Linked DNA regions of Homo sapiens: region 1 is linked to region 2. Evidence: fine-mapped expression QTL. Tissue or cell type: whole blood. Region 2 holds a variant in brackets; the other region holds the start of a gene. All regions are shown on one strand. Distances are from middle to middle.

Region 1 (2,760 bases), 30 kb after region 2:
CTCTTTCGGGCATGGTGTTAGGCTTTAAGAATAATCATGAAGAGGCCAGGACTCTGCCTGTCTGCCTCCCTGGTGCTGTGATGATAGAGTCATGCATGTTTCTGAGAAACTGGGGCTTGTGCTCACCCAGATCATGAGGTCGGTATTGGAGATGTGTAAGGGCTGTTACCCTGGTCTTTTAGAAGTTCCCTGCATTTGTTTAGAGCAGATTCTCTTTTTGTTATTGATATTTTTCACACAAATATCTAACTTTATGACCAGTACCACTTATATAAAAAAGAATTCGTTATCCATATACTTTTCCTATAAAAGACATTCATTTTGGAAAAATCTCATAAACCTTTGCCCAAGACATTGCTTACAAGCCAGAACTCCATAATTACCATGAAGCAAAAACCACTGAAAATCCGGCTGGAAAAACATAGAATACACTCTGCTGGTACACAGCACAGATAAACCTCATGTTCATCGAACAACAAAGGTGGAGTCTGACTTGAATTCTGGCCTACCAGAATATGAAAGGAGTTATTAAGAGAAAGTTATTTCATAAAAGACCCCTGTGGTGATTACTATTGTAAAGTTAAAAATCCTTGGGGAAAGTGTAAAATGTTTAATTTTGTAAATTGCCCTCCTACTTGTGTTATGTAAATGTGAATGTTTATATGTGCCTGGTTTCTTTGAAAAAGGAATCACCTGTAGTGGTGTAGAGATTTCAAATGTGTAAAAGGAGACTCAAAGGAAGGCAGAAGGTTCTAGACTCAGTATTTAAGTGGACATTTACTTTCATGAGCTTCAGCATCATACCCTGCAGATCACAAGGCCGAACAGCTGGGTGGAAAAATCACTGATTGCGGGAGGAAAAGAGGCACAACCTATGCTCAGTCTCCTTTAGGGACAGAGATGTTTCTAGGAGTACATAAACGATGGACTCCACAGGCAGTAACAGTGAATGGTGTGAGAACTGAGCTGCTGGGGGAGGAGGAACAGCAGGGAATATGGGAATTGGGAGAACCTTTAGCAGTTCACACTGTGCTATCTGCCTTCCTCATTTGTGTGTTTTCTGAGTCAGCATTAGCTAAATTTTCCAGAAGGCCATCCACAAAGTACAGCCTGGGCGTTCAAGGGACGTCATTCATTTCCCCCAGTGACCTTGACAAGTCAGAAGCTTGAAAGCAGGGAAATCCGGATGTCTCGGTTATGAAGTGGAGCAGTGAGTGTGAGCCTCAACATAGTTCCAGAACTCTCCATCCGGACTAGTTATTGAGCATCTGCCTCTCATATCACCAGTGGCCATCTGAGGTGTTTCCCTGGCTCTGAAGGGGTAGGCACGATGGCCAGGTGCTTCAGCCTGGTGTTGCTTCTCACTTCCATCTGGACCACGAGGCTCCTGGTCCAAGGCTCTTTGCGTGCAGAAGGTAGGTTTCTCACCAGATTTCCAAACTGAAGCAAGGCTTCAGTCCTAAGCCTCCTAAGCTGTTGACTATGGATTTCTGGGAATGAGGGTGACCCTCAGTGTCAACAGCAGGTCTAATTGGTGGTACTGCTCTGCCAAAAATGTACCACCATATTGTCAACTTCACCAAAATGATTGACATTTACGTTTGTATCATCTGGACTTTTACTTTTGGTTATGGAATATTTTTAATGAGGACATTTTGAAATAAAACACTGAAGAGAAACCATTTGATTTTTACTCTTTTTTGTATGGGTGGTATTTAAATTTTTTGTAGCAATGGGATCTCGCTTTGTTGCCCAGCCTGGTCTTGAACTCCTGGCTTCAAGTGATCGTCCTGCCTCAGCCTACCAAAGTACTGGGATTGCAGGCATGAGCCACTGCATCCAGAAGTAATAATTTTTTTTTAAGTATTTCATTGAAGACGCAAACCATGATTGTAAAAAATTTAAAGCAATCACTAAGCTTGGGAATAATGGGTAACTTTCACTAAAATTGGCCTGTTTTTATGTTTTTTGGGAGTGTTAGCATAATTATTTTAATTTTGATTTTATCATACCATGAATGAGGTGCAATGTTTTAAAAAAATATTCAGTAAATAGCAAATTAGCTGAAAAAAATCTGTAAAAATATAAGTTTGAAAATTAAGCCATCGGCTGTCTACTAAAGGAATGACTTAAAGTGATCGCTGGGCTTTTGAGATGCCTAAATGGAAACCTCATTTTGCACTGTAGGCAAAAAAATTGTAACCACAAATCACTCATTGCAGCTCTGGGCAAATGAAAATCTGAGCACTTTAATAGGAAAATGTGTGTTCCTATGCTGGAAGATGACCTGAGATATAAAATATGCTAGAAACAGACATTCAGAGTTGATTTATATGTTGTTGCATTACATTTTATAAGAAAGGTCAGAGTTATATGATTAGTTTTTTAAAATACTGTTACTTTCAAATAAGTTTGGTCCTCTTTGAAATCCTCTGGGGAGACTATTTTTCCCCACAATGCTGCCATTATTCAAACTATTGGACACTGTTTTTTGAAAATGACTCCATCACACTCTGGACTATCCTCAGCAAGGGAAAAAGATTTTCTAGGGAAATTACATTTTTGGAAACAACCAAAAGTCAGCATAACCATGACTGCAGAATAAAGTAGTTGATGAAGGTAAGTGAATAGGGGTGGGAACTATATTTGAGGGCCAAGTATATAGTGATCCAGAGCTAGGTGTGTATATACAATTTCATTTAATCCTCTCAAAAAGACAGTTTATAGGTGAAGTGACTTGCCCAATGTCATGCAGGCAGT
Region 2 (2,760 bases):
GTTTAGAAGTTCTATACGAATTGCTATAGGAGCACGGGGGAGGGCCCACCTGATTCTGCTTGAAGGGAGACAAAGAAGCCTTCAAAGAGGGATGGTATCTTGTTGGTGTTTTAAAGTAAAAATAGGAGTTCTCCAGTCAATAGAGGAAGACACATCCCAAGTGGAGAAACCAGCATGGACAAAGGTGTGGAGGTTGGGGGTGAAAACAAGATGAAACAAACAGTTTGTCATAGTGGCAGTGTCAGGGTGTGGAAGTGAGACTTGGTTGACCAGGGCCACACGCCAGGCCATGCTAGCAATTTGAGCCTCTAGGCAACGGGGAGTCATTGGTAAGTTTATACCACATGAGGTAATCAGCCTTTATTTTTAGATTATTCTGACTTCAGTGGACAATATATTGGAGGTGTGCAAAAGCTGAGGTAAAGAGAGACACAGTAGGAGGCTCTTTCTCAGTCCAGCAGGAAGAGGTTGGTGCCTTGGACCAGATCTCTCCATGGGCACTGTCAGGGTTTGAACTCTGGCTGATGAGGGTGGCTAGCAGGAGAAAACAGACCTTTTAGCAACAGGAATCCCTGTGGAATGCAAACATCCGTGTTACCAAGAGCTGCAGAAGGGAAAGTACAGAAAGTATAACAGATGGAGAAACCTTTATAAACAGGAGGTTTCACAAGTTTCCTGGAGAATATCAGTGACATGTCCCAGAGTCCAAAGGCAGCATGCACACATGCTCCAGACTGTCAGCTTTGGATCTGTCAGCAAGGCTCCTGACCCACATGCACCTAGGCCTCTAACCATTTTCCGTCAGTGTTGGAAGCTGAGGAAGTTGCCGCCAAAGGAATCCTAATGCGTGGACTCCTGCATTTATTGCTGCACAAGGCCTCCTGCAAACCACCTTACCTAAGATTTATAGGATGAGCAGTTACCCATGAGTCTCATTCGTTCATTCTACAGACATTTATTGAGTACCTTTGGTTTGCCCTATATAATACTGGAATATAGAGGTAAAGGGCACACAGTCACAGACCCAAAGGAGCTCCCAACCTTTGGGAAGTCAAGGCAGTGTAGCCAGTGCTATGACAGAAGAAAGCAGACTTCCGAGGAGAATACACCACAGAGTCCCACATTCACTCTAGGAGGATGAGAAAACGCTTACCGTAGGAAAGGTCAACGATAGCTGTAC[G/A]TGTTTTTCTGATATTTGTTTCCACTCCAGTTGTTCTTCCAAGCTATACCTCAGCTTGGGCTAGGCAGAGTGGCCGTAACCACTCAGCAGGTGTTTCCATAAGATACTCTATGACTGTTCCCTAATAGTGTTTGTGTCTTAAGCCTTTATACAACCTCTGCAATCTTTGTCTATGCCTGGGGTTTTGAAGACTGCAGTAAATAAAATATCCCTGATTTCAAGGAAGGTGATATACATTTTTTAAAAATAACATGTTTCTTTCTGAATATGAAATTTACCAATTATCTGCATTTTAGATTATTTCCTTAGTGTAGATTTCTAGAAGTATGAATACTAGCTCAGGGGAAATAAATTTTTTAAGGCTCTTAAAGCAAATTATTTTCAAATAACCCATTTATGTTTTCACTGAATGGGTTACAATACTCAATTCACCGTGCCATTGACACAATTCTTGTTCTTTCTTTTTGTAAATATCCATGACTTTGATAGGCCACAATTGTGTCTTGTCTTATTGTTTTAATTGTATTTCTTGGCCTTTCCAAATGTTTATGGAACATTTGTATTTCTGCTTTTAAAAATTCTGTATTTATGACCTTTGCCACTTGTAAGCTTGGTAGTTTACTAATTTATATGAACTCTTCACATGTAAAGAATATTTTCTGGTTCTGCTATTTTGGCTGACTGGAAAACTTGAAAATCTTTTGACCACAAGCACTTAGAAATTGCTGCTGGACAAAATAAAGCAAACCTTTGTCTAAATAGCTGAATCCACAAGAAAATAAATTGAAATACCCAGATACAAGAAAAGAAAAGAGAACTGAAACCAAGCTGACCCTGCAGCTTCCTTAGGGACAAGTGTCAGCCTTGGTTATCTGGGAGCTGAGCTTTTGCACTTGCCTGTGGTCTGAGACAAGGCCTGGAACACCTATGGTAGAGAGTTGACACAGATTCCCACAGAAAGTTAAGGGCGTCCAAGGACTATATCCTCAGATGGAATTTGGATAAGGAAAAATAATAATCACCAACCAGCAGAGAAACAAGGAAATTTGTTTCACCCTGGACTGTAGTAGGAAAAAACACTTTCTCCTTCCTCATAGGGAAAGTACGTGCTCACAAAGTGACAGCAGTGATGATGCAATATGCAGAGGATTTGAAAAGAACAGCAAGATGGTGCTTCTAAGATATGTTAGAAATAAGCAGAAAAGTACTCTGGAGAGACAGACCCTGCATCTGGACACACAGGATTCCTCTAATAAAGCCTCACTGAAGATGACTTCACAACTTAAAATTATAAAATACACAAGAAAACAATTCATCATGAACAAAAGTCATCAGTTACACAAAACAATAGGATTATATCCTAAGAACCTCGGAAAATAAAATGATCTGACAATTTTTTTAAGATAAGCTTAAAATTGTTACAGGTAGCTGGGTACAGTGGCTCACGTCTGTAATCCTAACACTTTGGGAGGCCAAGGTGAAAGGATCGCTTGAGGCCAGGAGGTTGAGACCAGCCTGGGCAACAAAGTGAGACCAGCCTGGGCAACAAAGTGAGACCCTATCTCCACAAAAAATAAAAA

Evidence for each region. PIP is the estimated chance that this variant, and not a neighbour inherited with it, causes the effect.
Region 1: it holds the start of LYVE1, and the variant in region 2 is fine-mapped to the expression of LYVE1 in whole blood (TOPMed, PIP above 0.99).

Annotation. Positions count from the first base shown.
Region 1 is chr11:10,567,103-10,569,862 of GRCh38, reverse strand. It overlaps LYVE1 (lymphatic vessel endothelial hyaluronan receptor 1), which reads left to right and starts at 1,198. Exons shown (of 6, transcript NM_006691.4): 1 at 1,198-1,415. The coding sequence starts at 1,331. The region is part of intron 1 of IRAG1-AS1 (IRAG1 antisense RNA 1); the gene reads right to left.
Region 2 is chr11:10,597,503-10,600,262 of GRCh38, reverse strand. All of the region lies in intron 15 of IRAG1 (inositol 1,4,5-triphosphate receptor associated 1), which reads left to right. IRAG1-AS1 (IRAG1 antisense RNA 1) reads right to left here. Exons shown (of 4, transcript NR_046375.1): 4 at 331-572. Among named protein-coding and RNA genes, the nearest start is that of LYVE1, 30 kb to the right of the region's middle. The variant G/A (reference allele first, on the strand shown) is at 1,181.